Homo sapiens: one gene and its partner. The protein of the gene in region 1 interacts with the protein of each later gene in a pairwise test. Each region holds a gene or a part of one and is shown in the gene's direction. Other genes may lie near its edges. The genes, in order: SETD5 and DPPA2.

Evidence for each region.
Region 2: the proteins of SETD5 (region 1) and DPPA2 interact in a two-hybrid assay, tested with the Homo sapiens proteins (one large-scale study listed by BioGRID and IntAct).

What each region holds. Positions count from the first base shown.
Region 1 is NC_000003.12:9,473,799-9,477,617, forward strand, and holds part of SETD5 (histone-lysine N-methyltransferase SETD5), read left to right. Parts: intron 1-650; coding exon 651-784; intron 785-1,269; coding exon 1,270-1,358; intron 1,359-1,501; coding exon of another isoform or gene 1,502-1,525; exon of another isoform or gene 1,526-1,684; coding exon 1,685-2,293; 3' UTR 2,294-3,819.
Region 2 is NC_000003.12:109,303,010-109,306,828, reverse strand, and holds part of DPPA2 (developmental pluripotency-associated protein 2), read left to right. Parts: intron 1-2,158; coding exon 2,159-2,354; intron 2,355-3,819. UniProt on the Homo sapiens protein: Binds to target gene promoters, including NKX2-5 and SYCE1, but not GATA4, and may be involved in the maintenance of the active epigenetic status of these genes.

The sequences.
Region 1 (3,819 bases):
TCATTTGGTGGGCACTAACACTGCCTTTCCTATTTCTCATTTCACATGAAAGGTGAGTCAAGAATCCAGCCAAGTTCCACATGAATTAACAACAGATGTCTCTCTTCCACACAGCTAGCATATACAGAGCAAAAAGACATTCTGAAAGGATTTGTCTGGTTTAGGGGAGACCACAAATTTAAAAATGAATAATACTGGTGGCAAATACTGAGGATCAAATGTGTGAAATAGAGAATGAAGCACAGGAGTTCAGGGATCTTGAACTGAAAAAAATAAGTCTGGGAAAGAACAGTCCTGGCTCAAATGTTTCATGTTCATTAATCTATGAAACCTTTATTAAACCAGTACTGTGTATCAGGCACATGATTTCCTAAAGGAGAAATTTTAACATTTTAAATGGGGGTTAAGGGAAGTTAACATCTTTAACCCACTTTTTCCTTGATTTCTTTTTCTTTAAAAGTGGTTGTTGTTGATGTTTCTCTTTTGTGCCTGACATAGTTGGAGGCAGAGGAAATACGTTGTTTTAAATTGGTTCTGAAGAAAGTAATGTTTAAGAGGATGTTTTAAGAAAATACACTGTGCACTGGTTAGGGCTTCATTTGTTTTGGTTAAGTCCTGTGGCTTGAACTTGCACCCTGTTGCCTTTACAGGATGGTTCCCACATCAGTAGAACGACTCCGAGAAGGAGGGAGCATCCCCAAGGTCCTCCGAAGCAGCGTGAGGGTGGCCCAAAAGGGAGAGCCCTCTCCCACATGGGAGAGTAACATCACAGAGAAAGACTCAGGTGAGCCCATGGCCTTCTGCTGCCACCACATTCAGGGACACATGAGCCGAGTCCTGTACAGTTCATGCCTAGTGCTGAGTTGAGGTGAGTCAGTTTCTGATGCAGTTGGGCTCCACCGCATGCTAGGTTCCAGCCCACTTATGCTCATTTGGGCTACCACATTTGTAAGATCTAGCATTGCTTGCTCTCTGTCTGCTCTTTTTTCCCCAAGGAATACCTTTCTGTAACTCTCATCTCTCCAAAGTCCTGGAAATCTACCTCGATGAAGGATGAAGAGAAAGAAGACGGGAATCACATCAGGCATTTAGAACATAGCCCATAATTAACCACTCATTTTGCCCTTCTGGCATGCTGCACTCACCCAATTTGTCACAAAGAGAGCAGTACGGGTTGGTGATGGCACTGGTGATTTAAATGAAAAATGGCTCTTTCTTACTTATTCTAAGAAGCCAAGTTGATTTTTTTTTATATATGTTACCTTCCAGACCCTGCAGATGGAGAAGGCCCAGAGACATTAAGCTCAGCACTCTCTAAAGGAGCAACAGTTTACAGCCCTTCCAGATACAGCTACCAGGTGAGATGAGAAATTGCTGGTCTCTAGCCATAGGAGTGTGTTCTGGGTCCCAAATTGTCCTGGTCATCCTTTGCCATTGAGATGCTGTCTTTGCATATAGTTTCAGCAGCCTTGGAAATAAGTCATCATCTGCTTGTCCTCAGGTAATAAATTATGCCAGAAGATGAATACGGTGATCAAAGACAGACATTTTACTGCCTTTGGTTTCCTAAAAAGAATACATGGTTAAAAGATGAAGAAAAAAGAATGTAGGGTATTATAAATGTTCACCAGCCATTTAAGGGACTTGTTCGCGTCCTTATTCGTTTCCTCCCAACTTTGTCTAGCTCCTGCAGTGTGATAGTCCTCGGACAGAATCACAAAGCCTCCTTCAGCAGAGTTCCTCCCCCTTCAGAGGACATCCTACACAGTCTCCAGGATACAGTTATCGAACTACTGCACTGAGACCTGGAAACCCCCCCTCTCACGGTTCTTCAGAATCATCCCTCTCTTCCACGTCCTATTCCAGCCCCGCCCACCCTGTGTCCACAGACTCGTTGGCCCCATTTACGGGGACACCAGGGTATTTTAGCAGCCAGCCACATTCTGGAAACAGCACTGGCAGCAATCTTCCAAGGAGGAGCTGCCCTTCTAGTGCTGCTAGCCCTACCCTGCAGGGACCCTCAGACTCGCCAACCTCAGATTCAGTTTCTCAGTCCAGCACAGGAACTCTGAGTTCCACCTCCTTTCCTCAGAACTCTAGGTCGTCATTGCCATCAGACTTACGGACTATCAGTCTGCCCAGTGCTGGGCAGTCAGCTGTCTACCAGGCCTCCAGGGTATCTGCGGTTTCCAATTCACAGCACTACCCACACCGTGGGAGTGGGGGTGTGCACCAGTACCGACTCCAGCCACTGCAAGGGTCAGGAGTCAAGACTCAGACGGGACTTTCCTAGGGCTTCTGGATTTGGGCAAACAGAACTGAATGAGCCCATAGCTGCTTCCTTCCAGCTGCCTCTGGAACCTAGGCCGAGCATATTGCTGAGGAACGGGGGGTACAAGGTGCCAGAGGATTGGGTCTGGTGGACAAGAAACAAGACTTGTGGTCACAATTGGCCTCTGGCCTTGGAGAAAGCTGTAAATCTTGTCTGAAGCAGAGACTATAAAGAAGTTTCTCCCTGCTGTCAAGGGTACATTGTTGACAAGCAAATGGTGTTTCGGTTAGTAACGGTTCTAAGTGCAATGAGTTGTGTTGAAGCCTCCGTCTCCCATCCTTGCCTGTAGCCCGTAGTCACTTGTGCAGTGAGGACATCTTTTTAAATTTAAAAAAAAAAAAAAAAAAAGTTTTCAAAGGAAAAAAAGTTAAAAGAGCCAATCTCAAAGCCCCAAGCCATCTGAGTACTGTTAGGGTTTTATGCACTTAAGAAAAAAGGTAGGTATGTAAATGTTCATCCTAAGACAACCATTCCAAAAGCAGGTATCTGGCCAATGTGTGTCCACCAAGAATACTGTTTATCTTTGTCTTAAGATCACCAAGAAATAGGCAAGGATAGTAAAGCTTGGAACCTGCACCAACTGGAGGGTGCCTGGCTCTTTGAAGAAAAGCTCATGGTCAGCTCTTGATTATTCGGGAGCAGATTATTTGAGTAGATTGTCTGAGCCTCCAACTGTTACCATCCTACTCCCCCTTCCCAAGCTATTTCACAGCTCAGTAACCCATGAAGTAAGTAGACAAGAAAAGGAGGAATGAGACATGATATAGGCCAATTGCATTGCTACTTACCAGCTTTTGGCAATAAATTTCATTAGGAAGGATACCGAGTGGTTTGGGAATGCTTCGAATTTTATTTTTTCTACTCCCAATTAATCAGGAGTTGATGATCCCATGAGCAGGACCGCCTCCATGATTGGGGAGCATGCACTTGTGACTGCAGGGTAAGAGTGGGAAGATAGGTTTGTGGAGTGGCACCGACAGGACTGTGATTGTGTGTGGGCCTGCCCCACATTTCTCTGGGGGATGCTTATGTGAGAGTGGGCCCAGTGAAAGAGTTACCAAGCCACCCACACCCCTAACACTGTTCTGGATGAGAGATGAGAGCAGACCGGCTTCTCCCCATCAGTGCATTGTGCCTGTTGTACACCCCTGGAGGAGCCCTGGAGCCAGCCCAGGTGGGGTACACAATCTTTTTAAATTCCATATGGTTGCCAGCTTATTTCTTTCACTTGTTTACTGTAATATCTGGCGTGTTTTTATTTATCTAATTTTGTATTCAGTTATAACCATGGTAGGGGTAGTGAATATATGACAGGTGTAATCCCTGGTGCTGCAGTGGACCTTCTTTTCTTTTGGACAAGATAATACTGTGAGTTTCCCTCCTTCCTTCCCTCTAATTTGTTTTCCTTTTTTCCCCAGCCTCTTGCATCCCCTTCTTTTCTACCCTGTCCTACAACTATCATATGCACAGTCTTCTCTCTTTGTGTG
Region 2 (3,819 bases), about 100 Mb from region 1:
GCTAATTTTGTATTTTTTTTTTTTCAGTAGAGGCGAGATTTCTCCATGTTGGTCAGGCTGGTCTCGAACTCCCAACCTCAGGTGATCCACCTGCCTTGGCCTCCTAAAGTGCTGGGATTACAGGCGTGAGCTACCGCGCCTGGGGCCCTCTAAGAAATCTTGAGGATAACTTAACTCCACTTTTCTCCAACTCCTGCTCTTCTTTTCTTGCTATTGCTTTTATTTCCAGGGTCTGCTATCTCAAGTCACCTTCCTTTTTGGCTTGAATCCTTTTTTTACTCCCCCATTTTCCCATTTCCAGAAGTATTCTAGATCCTATTTTATTCCAGCTAACTAGTATGGTAGGACACATTATTCATCATACAAGGAAACCAGCCAGAAGGAAGACTTGAAGTTGAAATTGGCATATCCTCTGCTCTTCAAGCTACATTCGTTTATGTGGGGACAGTGGGCACCTTTTAATAATTTGTGCAAAGGCATTGTCCAGCCATAAAGCTGTGTGCCTGGGGGCACTGCCTTCCCAAAGAGGACACCTCTTTCTAATTTTTAATAATATGCTGTATGAGTTACTATTATCCCACAGTGACTTATCATTTTATATTTCTCTTCATTCTGCAATTGTTAAGCATCTGCTGTGGTCCAGAGGTATGTCTAGCTGCTGGGTATATACTGTGCTAAACACACACATCTTCTCTTGTTTCACAGTCTAATCGGGGAGCTATCACACTACATGTACTGCTTATTTACAGATATGTAAATTCACTGTGACTGCTCCTTTCCCTCAATTTCAGACGTTCCATGAGTGTACCACTTATTTTCTTGCAAATATCCCGTCTCCTTAATTAAATTGTTCCTTACACTTTTAAACAGACACTTGTCTGTTTCCTGTAGCTGAGGCAGTACAATGTAGTGGTTAGGTAAATGGGCTGTAGGTCTTTCAGAATACTGACTTTCTCTCAATTTCAGACGTTCCATAAGAGTACTGCTTGTTTTCTTGCAAATATCACATCTCCCTACTTAAATTGTTCCTTACGCGTTTTTTTTTTTTTTTTTTGAGATGGAGTTTCACTCTTGTTGTCCAGGCTGGAGTGCAATGGCGTGATCTCAGCTCACTGCAACCTCTGCCTCCCAGGTTCAGGCGATTCTCCTGCCTCAGCCTCCTGAGTAGCTGGGATTACAGGCGCGTGCCACCACACCCAGCTAATTTTGTATTTTTAGTAGAGATGGGGTTTCGCCATGTTGGTCAGGCTGGTCTCGAACTCCTGACCTCAGGTGATCCACCCACCTATGCCTCCCAAAGTGCTGGGATTACAGGCGTAAGCCACCACGCCCAGCCTGTTCCTTACACTTTTAAACAGACGCTTGTCTGTTTCCTATAGCTGAGGCAGTACAATGTAGTGGTTAGGTAAATGGACTGTAAGTCAGTCAGAATACCTGGATCCATGACTTGGCTCTGAGTAACTTATGATATTTAACACCATAAGCTTCGTTTATCTCACCTGTGAATAAGAAATAATAAGAAAAGCAAATAGAAGGTAAATATTAATAGTGTACTTAAGAGTAAATGTATTAATACACATAAATCACCTAGCAAAATATTGGACACAAAACAAGCATTTCAAAATGGCAACCATTATTTTTTATTTTATTTTATTTTATTATTATTAGTATTATTATTTTTTGAGATGGAGTTTTGCTCTTGTCACCCAGGCTGGAGTGCAGTGGTGTGATCTCAGCTCACCACAACCTCTGCCTTCCGGGTTCAAGCTATTCTCTTGCCTCAGCCTCCCGAGTAGCTGGGATTACAGGCATGTGCCACCATGCCCAGCTAATTTTGCATTTTTAGTAGAGATGAGGTTTCTCCACATTGGTCAGGCTGGTCTCAAACTCCCCACCTTAGATGATCCTCCCGCCTCAACCTCCCAAAGTGCTGGGATTACAGGCGTGAGCCACCGCGCCTAGCCAGCAACAATTACTATTCTTTGTGTTATGTAACTTGTGAAATTAGATCATAGTGTCATGTGGTCTAGGTTTTCATGCATCTCATTCAATTGATTTGTGAGCAGAATACAAGAGCAAATTCAAGAGTGACTTGCTGAGAGGTTGTGTTGGGGTGCTATCTTGATTTTTGCTGTCTATATTTGTTTTTCCTTTCCAGGCGTCAGGTGGTGTGTGGTCCATGGCAGACTTCTCTCGGCAGACACAAAGGGTTGGGTACGCCTGCAGTTTCATGCAGGTCAGGCCTGGGTGCCTACCACTCACAGGAGGATGATTTCTCTCTTCTTGTTACCTGCCTGCATTTTCCCATCCCCAGGCATAGAAGATAATATGTTATGCCCCGACTGTGCTAAGAGGTAACCCTTATGTATCTTGTTAAGCATGGCACACAGAAAAGTAGGTGTATAGATGGATTTCTAAATAATTTAACAGTAGAAAGCAGAGGGCGAACATGCTGTCTTCTTAATTTGCCACATAGATCAGGCAAAAATAGGATGCAAGAAGAACTCACTAGTGAATTACAACTCAATAAATGTGGCTAGTTCTTTTTTTTTTTTGAGATGGAGTTTTGCTCTTCTCGCCCAGGCTGCAGTGCAGTGGCATGATCTCAGCTCACTGCAACCTCTGCCTCCTGGGTTCAAGCGATTCTCCTGCCTCAGCCTCCCGAGTCTCAGCTGGGATTACAGGCATGCACCACCACGCCCAGCTAATTTTTGTATTTTTAGTAGAGAAAGGGTTTCACCATGTTGGTCAGGCTGGTTTCAAACTCCTGACCTCATGATCCGCCCGCCTCGGCCTCCCAAAGTGCTGGGATAACAGGTGTGAGCCACCGTGCCCGGCTAATTTCTGTATTTTTAGTAGAGACAGGGTTTCAGTATGTTGGCCAGGCTGGTCTCAAGCTCCTGACCTCAGGACATCCACCCAACTCGGCCTCCCAAAGTACTGGTATTAAGGGCATGAGCCACCGTGCTGTGCCTAAATGTGGCTAGTTCTTAGCCTTAACAAAGCATCTGACAAGTCAGGACCTGATTTCTGCCTCAATTTTAGAGACTTGTTCTAAAGGAAAAAAACACACATTTGAGTTTTTAATACATGTCAGATACTCACCTTGGAATGCAAAAACAAAATCCATCTAGCCTACTCAACTAAAAATGAGTAAGAAGGCCAGGCGCGGTGGCTCATGCCTGTAATCCCAGCAGTTTGGGAGGCCGAGGCGGGCGGATCACCTGAGGTCGGGAGTTCGAGACCAGCCTGACCAATATGGAGAAACCCCGTCTCTACTAAAAATACAAAATTAGCTGGGCGTGGTGGCACATGCCTGTAATCCCAGCTACTCGGGAGACTGAGGCAGAAGAATCGCTGAACCCGGGAGGCAGAGGTTGCGGTGAGCTGAGATTGTGCCATTGCACTCCAGCCTGGGCAACAAGAGTGAAACTCCGTCTCAAAAAAAAAAAAAAAGAGTAAGAAAAGCTATGAAAATATATGGGAAGAATCTATATTGGAATAGCTTAGGGAAACTTAAGAGAAGATTACACGTTCTGAGGAAGAGCTTACCAGTTGTGGAAGTCGTCAGTACAAACACAGGGAAATAAAAAATATGATGGCCAGTTGCAGTGGCTCATGCCTGTATTCCCAGCACCTGGGGAGGCCAAGGTGGGCAGATCATCTGAGGTTAGGACTTCAAGACCAGCCTGGCCAACATGGTGAAACCCTGTTTCTACTAAAAATAAATAAAGAATATAATATATTTAGAAACTGCCAGTTAGTCAATGTGATTGAAGCTTATATTGAGAAATGAGTTTGGGGAGTGGAGGAGCAGAC